2 separate regions of the Homo sapiens genome follow, and region 1 is linked to region 2. A link means that fine-mapping ties the variant in region 2 to the expression of a gene that starts in the linked region. Tissue or cell type: whole blood. Region 2 holds a variant in brackets; the other region holds the start of a gene. All regions are shown on one strand. Distances are between the middles of the regions.

Evidence for each region. PIP is the estimated chance that this variant, and not a neighbour inherited with it, causes the effect.
Region 1: RUNX2 starts here. The variant in region 2 is fine-mapped to the expression of RUNX2 in whole blood (TOPMed, PIP above 0.99).

What each region holds. Positions count from the first base shown.
Region 1 is chr6:45,325,161-45,330,517 of GRCh38, reverse strand. It overlaps RUNX2 (RUNX family transcription factor 2), which reads right to left and starts at 2,188. Exons shown (of 9, transcript NM_001024630.4): 1 at 2,058-2,188; 2 at 1,734-1,857. The coding sequence starts at 1,791. The region is part of intron 2 of SUPT3H (SPT3 homolog, SAGA and STAGA complex component); the gene reads left to right. RefSeq lists an enhancer at 2,419-2,459, a promoter at 1,866-2,506 and a cis regulatory region at 3,464-3,470.
Region 2 is chr6:45,444,766-45,450,122 of GRCh38, reverse strand. All of the region lies in intron 5 of RUNX2 (RUNX family transcription factor 2), which reads right to left. Among named protein-coding and RNA genes, the nearest start is that of SUPT3H, 70 kb to the right of the region's middle. RefSeq lists an enhancer at 3,674-4,175. The variant T/C (reference allele first, on the strand shown) is at 3,015.

The sequences.
Region 1 (5,357 bases), 120 kb after region 2:
ATCTGGTTTTTAAAATGTGTTTAAAATAAATAGTTAAACAGAGTGATAACGTGAAAGAGTAACTTAACTGCCTCTGTTATCCCTCCCTGATATCTCTGTTATCCCTGTTTCAAGTTATCCCTCTGTGTAACAGTAGTTTTAACTATTCTTTTTCCTTTTATCTCTTGGGTAGTAGTAACAAAACTTTCGATGTATAAGCTGTAATTATGCTATGTGTTGTAATGTAGTCTAGCTGTGTTTATGTCCTGCTTCCTTAATATAGAAGTTTTTAGAGTAATACTTGGTACCCATCATTAAAATTTTAAATTAATCTGTGATTATTATATTGTATATATTATAACTGAGGGGGCCCACTTACAGCTATTGAGGGAGTCACTAAAGCAATTTTACATTTTTTTTTGTAAAATACAAAGTACATTTCCTCACCCTGTAAGAGAAACCATTTTTTCTCCCTTCAGGTTTAATTATTTCTGTTTGACCTAAACTGAGACTGATCCTCTAGTAGTATCCAGTTAAAATGTGTGAAGTAGGAGGAGTAAAGGAAACTCCAGTCATTAGTTGTAAGTTAAAAGCAGAGTTAATATAGATGTACACAGCAAGAAGGTTTATTTTAATGGATATAAGAAAAATTTTTGAAAACTTGCCTTGTAGTTGGAACATGTTGGAGATCATAAAGAGAATCTTGTAAGTGTGTTTAGATATTTTGCTATAATAACACATCAGCTGATGAATGTTAAAGTCATTTACATATCTGTATCAACAGTAACTTGAAATTAAATATTAAGGGACAAGATTATGCCTACTTCTTTTAAAGTCCAGCATGGTTTAATAGTTGTGGCTTTTAAAAATCATACAGGGTATCCTTATGGAGCTTTATTTTTCATGAGACTAAACAGCAGTTATTCATTTTGGTAGGTCCAAGAATGTGATTAAAAGAATCTTAGACGTTTCAGTGTTTCAGTGTGTTTATAACAAGGTCTATGGATAACAGTGTGTAGATGTAAAATTAAAATTACATAGAAAAATGCAGTTGCATGTAAGTTTTAAAATACTTCCATGAACTTTTTAATATCCTGGGCAACTATAAAGATCTTTTAAAAATGGCTGTGATGTGCTTATCATAATTTTATTTCAGCTGAATGTATACTTATATAAAGTTGTTTAGAAACAAACTTATTTAGATAGGATACAGTTTGAATTTATAAGTAGATTTCTTTTAGTTGAGCTGGTTAAAATGTTAACTGTACTACAGGTTTATTTCTGTGTTATACATGGTAGACCATAATGTTGAGATAATTCTGTGGTCTGTTATTTTGTAAAATTGCTTCCTTTTTGAAGTTTGCTCAAATATTGGGAGCTGCCGGAGTCAATAATTTATAATGCTTTGATTAATTTAGGATCTGACTTTTCTTCTGGTGAGGGTTAATGAGAGTATTAAACTGTTTCTTTTACTGTTTTCATATCCTCACCTCTATAACTCTAGAAAACATTTTGATCAATGTGAGATAATTTAATTTTGTATATTTCAAGTCATTACTTTGAAAATTAGATACATTACAGATACCAAATGCAAATATATACAGAAATTTCATTTTTCAATTCTTAATGCAACAAGATAGCATAATTAGGATCTTTAATATGCTATTTGGAAAAGCTAGCAGTTTATCAAAGAATCATACCTTTATGTTTAACAGGTTCATATCTTACAGGATTTTAAAAATGGTAACACTTACCCCAAAAGAAGTTTTGCTGACATGGTGTCACTGTGCTGAAGAGGCTGTTTGATGCCATAGTCCCTCCTTTTTTTTTCAGATAGAACTTGTACCCTCTGTTGTAAATACTGCTTGCAGCCTTAAACTGAAAATACAAACCATACCCAAACCTTGTTTTAGTTTTACAGTATGCCTGGAGTACATAGACTTTATATTTATTTTTTTCTGTCAAGAAATTATGTAGCTGGTAACATGTGAAAAGCAAAGAAACAAAACAAAAAGAGAATGAGCAAATATTTGAAGGACCTACTATTACTGCATAGACTGTGGTTAGAGAGCACTCACTGACTCTGTTGGTCTCGGTGGCTGGTAGTGACCTGCGGAGATTAACCATTTAAAAACCAGAGACTTCTTGCTGTCCTCCTGGAGAAAGTTTGCACCGCACTTGTGGTTCTGTGGTTGTTTGTGAGGCGAATGAAGCATTCACACAATCCAAAAAAGCAAAAGCTTTAAAACTCCTTTTTTTTGCAAGCACTATTACTGGAGAGGCAGAATCATGTGGTTTGTGACCTCACAGTACTCTTAAGTAAAGTGGGACTGCCTACCACTGTGGCTTTTCCCCCTTGCTCTTTCTCTCTCTCTCTTTCTCTCACAAAAGGCTTGTGGTAAGGCCTTTCCTGGCATCCAGAAGGATATAGCTTTTTAATTTTTGTGACTCATGAGGATTTGGATAGAATACAAATGCTGAAGGAGCCCAAACTCCTGTAAGGTTAAGCATTTGTAGAGCAGAGCTCTGCAGTTAAGGGCTTTCCTTTCTACTCCCCGCTCAACCTCTGCCTTTTTGCCTCCTCTTTTTAGTTCATTATTGTGTCTGTGGAAAAATGAACAAAATTGGCTCAAGAGTCTGTGTGAAATTCTGAACAACAGTGATGATATACAATAATTCACATCTTTGGACTGTATCACATTCTGGGGTCTGCTTCATATTTGCTGGGTGGCTGGATTCCTTCTGTTTTCCTTTTTCTTGTCTTCTTAAACTTGTGAATCTGTAACTCATTGTAAAAAAAAAAAAAGTTTACCTTAAGGTCTGGTTGCAAACTGCTTGCTAGGCTTGACTATAATTGGCTGTCATGAAAGTGTTAGTCTGGGCATTCTTTTACAAATTTTAAATCACGTCTGTCTAGTTTATTATCAATCTATTAGATGGCGGCCTTTACAATAAAGATTAAATGTAATGTTTCATGTATACCATTATCTCATGCCTAGTTTGAAGATCTTAAAAAAATGAATGACAGGGATTGTAATATAGTTTATTGGATGAATCTTAGTTTTCTTTATGATTGTAATATTTTTTGTCTTTCATTGAAGTGTATTCAGTTTATATAGTTCTTTAAGTAGTTTAGACATTAATAGAGTTTCTGATAGCAGATCTTCTATAAAGTAAAATGCTTATGTTATAATGTAGATTGTTCAGTATTTGATTCTATGAGCTTAGAATAGAGTGGGTTAACAGAAGCTATGTATTTTTTTGTTTCTAATGGAAGCTTTGAAATAAATTACAAAATGCTGTGTGTAGTAAGGAATAATGCCCACAGACAGAGTATGTTAGTCGTCTCGATTTGCTAATTCTGATTCAGAAGAAAATTGGAAACATCTTTGGGAAACTATCTCCTTTTTTGCCCCTTTGGACAAGTATGTATAGAACTCATTTTCTTATTAGGATGATTATATATCATAGGCAGTGAATTTTATATTTATGAATAGAGCTTCCTGTTTTCATCAGTTGGGAGCGATGGAGTATTTTTCAACCAAAATTATAAAGGCGAACAGACCAATTTTCTAGGCATTTTTTTGCCATTTATCCATGCCACTCTAAATCTGCATGTTAGACTTCTTCCTAGTGTGACAGTAACTAGGAGTGGCATAAAGTAAATGGGGTGGGCGGAGACAGTGAATTACAAAAGATTATTTGGAATGTGCAGGGAGGTAAGGGCTAGGGAGACAGGAGGGTGTTAGAACTAAAATATCCCTGTGTTCTTCCTAGTGCTATTCATTATCTGCTTTTGGTTCATATTAGATCACAATAACTGTACAAATATGTTCATAAGTTTCTTTACAGAAAATTTGATTTTCCCAAAATACACTGGTAGGGTATGGGAATGATTCTAGTCCTTTATTTTTCAAATGTCCAGAACCTTTTCAGAATAAACTTTTAGTGATAAAAAACCAGAAATACATTTTGGTGTTTTATTTTAACTATGGATTTATCATGCCTTATTGTATGTGTAAACAGATTTTACATTGAAAGGTAAAAGCGTTCATTTAACATGCAGTTATTCATGTGAAGGAGAGAAAAATTATTTTTTCTCTTTTATAAATAAGTCGTATCCATATTATCTGTATCTCTAATTAGTATCCAAAGTAAACAAAAGGAGGGTTTTGTCCTTATAGCTTGTGGGATTTCCAAACATGGTTTCATGTGTACCTATAATAGCAGAATCACTTAATTGAAAATATGTAGGTAGCTGCTGTAGTATGATCAGCAAATGGTTTTCTTCTTTTCAAATAAGCTTATAGTTTCTACATTAGCATTCACTGAAACATCTTACAAACCCAACATTTTGCTATTTTCTTCCTTAAAATCTTCTTTATGTAAACTTTGGCTCTTCAAATTGACCTGATAAGAATTTAAGTAATTTTTAACATCTATTTGTCATTTAATTACCTGTTCACTTTTTGCAGGTAATCCTCCTGCATGTAATTTTTGGACCAGGATTTGAGAGTTTAGTAGATATTGTTATATATGCACTTTTTGTCCTCTGTGAGGCCTATCAAATTCTAGCAGGAGAAAGATAGTGAAATCATGTGCTTTAAGTTAGTATATTCATTATCCACATGAATTTTTTTCCTAAAACGAAAATATATCCTCTTTGGAGCAAATATTACTTTGTTGTAAAAATTTAAAAAACAATGACAACTGGGGCACATTTGATAATTGGTACACATTTGATAACAGTGTGTTTCATTAGAAATAGCTTACTACACGTGGTGAAGAGATACTGATTTAGAAAAGTCAATGCAAATAAAGCTCTTGATTATAGATTTATACCATGGTTATAATCAGAAATTGAAAACCACAGATTTATTTTTATTTTTATTTTTGCTTTTTAAAGACCCATAAAATTTTATCCTCTCTGGGGACATGTTAGTATTTGCTGTTTTGAAGTAAGCAACAAGTTTAGGTATACTGTATAAATCACATACTTTAATGCCATGGAAATGAAATACAGTTTTGATCTTGAAATCAATTTCAAAGAAAAAAAGTTGTTGGTATCTTGCTTCTCCATTGCTTTGTAGTGAATAAAATGTGTTAGAATTGGTTGAACTTTTGAAAATACCAAGGTATTTGTGTTTAAATGCTATGTGTGTCTTCATTGTAACCATTTGAGTAATTTTTTATTTTCTTAACTAATGATCATATTTTAATACATTAGTTTTACTTTATCAATATTGTGCTCATTTCTATGCATTTTTTTAAGGATTATTTTAGACTTATTTGCTGCTAACTCTATTCTTTTATTTGCTGCTCATTCTTTGAAAAACAAAGGAGAAAATGGTTTGATGCAGGAATTTTTAAACTTTAGA
Region 2 (5,357 bases):
TCTCCTTTGAGCTTCAATGTGGTCATGCCATTCTGTAGCATTCCATCATTTTCCTGATGTTATTTCCCCAACTTCTGTTATCTTTCATAACAGTACCAGCATTATCTATCACAGAATATCTGGGAGATACACATCACGATGTTAGTAGTGGTAATCTTGGGAGATGCAATTATGAGTGATCTCTGTCTTCTTCTTTGTTATTATTAGTTTTTATTTTCTAGTGTGCAATTTTTTCACTTGTGCAATTTTTTAAAGTTAATTTTTTTTAAGTACTAAATTCATTTCACTGGTATTCAAAGTAAGATTCTATTGAGGTTAAGTTATACAATGTATTATTTTCATCTCACAAAATTCAGTGTTTTCAGCTGTTAAAATGAATTCAATACTCATTCAACAAACATGCCTATGTCCATGAACTGCATGCCCACTCTGTGCCAGGCCTTATAACTTTGACTTCTGTACTATTCAGCGATGCTACTGCAGCATTAAGCATGCTTCTTATGTAACACTGCTTCATCACATCAACCAAGAATCCCCTGGGCCCAACACTTACACAGACTTGACAAACGGCAACAGGATAAACAGGAAAATATCTGGAATCCTTGCCTGTCTCTATAAATCATCTGCTGACTTGCAGAGTAACATAGGACAAATGAGTTCTCAGGTGTCCATGCCTCAGTTTACCTATGTGTAAAATGCATAACGCCTCCCTCAGAGAGATGTACAGAGAATCACTGAGGTAATGTCTAAGCATTTGGAACTCCTTGGCAGAAAGGCGCTACATAATTACTAATTGGTATTTAAGCTGCCCTTCATGTGTGCCAAGTACTTTATGATCATTCCTTAGGAGTTACTCCCAGCTACTTTGTGAAGTTGCCTTCATGTCTATTTCCATTTGAAAGATGAAGAAATAGAAGTAGAGAAAAGTTTAGTGGTTTGCTTAAGGTCACAAAGATGGCAATGAGGTCTCAAAAGAAGAATTCCTGAGTCCTCCAATCCCCTTAGCCATAAGGGAATCCACCTCTTAAACACAAACTACCCTTACAGATTAATTCCCTGTTAAGCTACTCTGAAATAGCCTTCATGGTAGAAAACACATTGTCACTTGTTTTTGTAGGCTGGAGTAAACAGTGAGGGGGTGAAACAGAAACCAAAGCTCTAGAATTAGTAACCCAGACTTCACACTCACCCTTCTTTTTACACATCTATATTTCTCCTCACTTCTTGTAGAACAACCTGCATTTGGTACCTTCATCATCTCCTTGAAGGGCCCATCTTTGCCTACTAATAATTTCCTGGGCCAATCCTAAGGAGGCATAAGGCCCAGATTAATCATCCTGAGTATCCCCCGCAACCAAAATACATGCTAGCGTTTTTACCCAGATTGTATCTCATAAAATTTAACTCCAAGGAGGTAAATGAGAAGATGAGAATGCATGTTGTGGAGGGTGCATATGCATTCTGAGAGTTCACGGCAAGGCAGAAAGCACCAGCTTGCTTCAGTGTCATCTGATGTCTTCCCCACCTGCCAACTACTGCACAACCCCAGGAAGACACACACCGAGCCAGCACTGGAGTCACCCCATCCACCTTGCCCAGAGCTAGTCTCACCCCAGATCGTGGTCTCCTGGCCCTTTTAAACCATGTTCCTCTAGTCCACACATTATTTTCTTCCCTCTTCTTAATTCGTTGATTCGTTTACCCTACAAAAGACAGCTCTTGTGGTTCTGAGTCCTGTACTCTCACCAAAATGACAGAAACGTGTGGACACCAATATCTAAGGATTCCTGCTCCGGTTGCTCAGGGAGCAACAGCCACATGACCTCTGCAGAGCAAGTGTAATGGTGGAGTTCTTTAACATAAATTTGGATAAAAAGTTCCAAAGCAACTCAGTGCCTGCCCATGGCAAAAGTGTAAAATAAGGGATTTAATTTCCTCCCCGTTTGCTTTCTCCTCTGCAGGAACATTCCCTCTGACCTCCTCCCCACTCACTGACCCTAGACCTCTCCAGAGTTCTCCAGAGTGACAGGAGCTTAGAAACATTTCCCTTCCACCATCTTTCATGAATATTATCTGTCCTGTGTTCCATTTCCTTAAATACTACTCCAGCTAACCTGATAATAATGACCTGAAAGTTTCAATACAAAGGAATGACTGGAAGTGTGGATCTCAGGCACTCAAAGCAGACAGGCTTTCAGCAGAACGCCTCTCACATCACCGCATGTTGGCAGCAGCTAACACACACAACTGCTAACATTTTCAGGAATAAAAACTCTCTGAGAGTTTCACACTAACAGTTTCTCATTGAAGGAATTACTGAAGGATCTACATCAAGAAAAAAGCAAACTCAACTTAAAAGGAAGAACTAAGGTGAAAGAAGGAATGATAAGCAAATGAATCAATAAACATAATGGATAAATACAAGTATAAACATTTTTTAAACACCGATAATGACTAATCCAGGAAATATAAAACAAGGATCTACTAAAATATCAGATAACGACATTAGAAGAGAGGGGGTGAGACTGCAGTTTAAAGAATGCTAAAGTTCTTGTATGGACAGAGATCATGATTAATTTTAATAAGACAAATATACATATTAAAATGGTAAAGATAATACTAAAATAAAAGAAACACATTCAATGATAACTTGCAAACCAATAGAGTAGGAAAGCTAGCATGTATCTAGAACAACAGAAAAGGAATACTCTGAAAGGAAAACATTTGCAAAAGAGAGAGATATGGAAATACAGAACCCTAAAACTCTCACCTTTCAATAACAAAATCTTGCACTCTTAAGAGTATATCAGAACTGGAAAGCATCAGGAATGCTCATTGCTACAGTTGACCTGCAGCAAAACTGTGATGCCTGAAGTTGGCAACCACTGGCCTCAAGGCCGGCAAAGGTCCTGCCTGCTGCACACTGCCACTCACTGTTTACTTTCTAGTACCCAGGATTTCACTGACCACTCCTCCCCTATCTTCCAAAACCTACTTCCCAAAAAATGATTCTA[T/C]GTCACTTGTTTTTATCTTAATAAGAATTTAAGTCTGAGTTACCTTTTCCAGGGGTGCTTGGGTTTAAGCCTTAAACCTAAATTTTAATGAAGAGTTTTGGTCTTCCAACAAATAGATTTTCACCACCAGTGTGCAGTAGCAGAGAAATTATGAGAACTGGAGCCCTTCCTTTGCTACTTACAAACACAGTCTTTTATTTTAACTGTTACATATGATCTTGAATTAATATTTTAGACCTAAATGGTTTTTATGCCTTTTCTTAATTTCCAAAATTACTTGAACAAACAAGAGCAATTAATTATTTTTTATACCTGCTTAAATAAAAACTTTAGAGATTTTATGTGAAGGCCAAAGATGTTCTTTAGTTGACATCATAAATGTATCCTATAAAAATGCTAGGTATGGACAGGTATGAATGGGAAAAGCAATACAACAAATCTTTTTTTTCCCTGCTATTTTTAAGTATGTCCTATTCACTGGTCTAGTCTTCCTTGAAGAAATTGCCATGGCACAAACAAAATAGAGGTGAACAGAATATTTCAGTGATCTATCAGGAATTATCTTTCTTGAGAACGAAAGGTCATTATTATTTAAAAAAAAAAAAAAGAGAGACAAAAAAAGGGGGGGAGGGGAACCTCTTTCTCTCAAGTCCCTGTCAAGTCCCTAACACTATTTTCAGAATGAATGATCTCTGACTTACACTAAGATACAAACTACTGACACATTTGGATCAAGCATGTATGTGTTTTTAGAACACATATCACTTGAAAACTTGCCATGCTATATTTAGTTAGAAGTAAATATATCAACTGGAACATATGCATGTGGAAACTGTGCTCTTGCTGTGAAAGCTACAGCACCTTGTTAACACAAGTCCAATACAATGAAAACGCATATTCAGAGCTGGGAAGCCAGGGAAGAGTGCAAAGGAGGGACACGAGCATGTTTTAACGGCTGTGATAATTTGCCATGAAAGGATGTTAATGCCATAGCTCCTTGCTGCAGCATGCCATGTGCTGCTGAATTAAATTACTGCCATGCAGTCTGCGAGCGAAGGAATGTGTAAACAGGCCATATATCCTTGCATCAGTTCCACAGAATGTTGCACAACACAAAATGCCTCTCGATGTGTCATTTCCTTCTTGGCTATCTTCCCAGCTCCTGACAGCCAGTCAACAAAAAAAAAGGACTGAAAGATATTTAAAACTGGTCTTCTCAAGAGCACATTCCACCAACCACCAGACATAACCTCCACCAGCGCTTCTGACCCATCCCCCCGCCCCCCTCATCCTTCTTGAAGAAAGGGAAACAGAGAACAGTGGGGTTTTCTTACTGTTATTATTCTCTTAAGTTAAAGATTTTCAACGATGTTTTATATACTGGTAGCCAAGTGATTAATATCTATGACAATCAAATTGCTGCTTGTATTTGCCAACTTGTAAATATCAAAACATGGCATTTACCCATAAATTCTATTCCTTGGGCACTTCGGAGACAGTGAAGAACCCAGGGGAAGTCTGAAAGTCAGGAAGTTAAGGGCTTCTCTACTAATGCTTTGTGCTAAGGACTAAAACCCAGGCCTGCAGCATCTGGGGCATGGCACAAAGGCTATCAAGGTTTTTTCAAATCATCCTCACAGACTGCAAGAATGTGAATGCAAGAACTGTGTCCAGAAGAATCAAATAATCTTAAAAAATACATCTGCTGTCCCTCTATCCAACATATTTTACATGTACCCTCACCTTATTTCACATGTGACCAATCTCTAAATAAGCATCTTCCTGGGCCGGGCGCGGTGGCTCACACCTATAATCCCAACATTTTGGGAAGCTGAGGCGGGTGAATCACCAGGTCAGGAGTTTGAGACCAGCCTGGCCAACATGGTGAAATCCCGTCTCCACTAAAAATACAAAAAATTAGCCAGGTGTGGTGGCACACACTTGTAATCCCAGCTACTCAGGAGGCTGAGGCAGGAGAATCGCTTGAACCCAGGAGGTGGAGGTTGCAGTGAGCCGAGATCCCGCCACTGCACTCCAGCCTGGGAGACAGAGCAAGACTCCATCTGAAATAAAATAAAATAAAATAAGCATCCTCTTTTGGTAAATAAGCAAAAGTCATGGGCTAGCCTTTGGCATAAAAAGTCTATTCCTTCACCCAACTAAGATGAAAAGTAATGGAGGATAAAAGCGAGCTGCCGCTGACATCAGCTGGAATGAGGAAGAGAAAAATGTCAACCCCTCCATTCTCTCCACCCTTCACCAGGCTGGAAAGCAGTCCCAGAACTAGGTGGAACAGCGTAAGAGAAAAATGAGATGATGTCTTGCCTACACCACCTGTTTCGT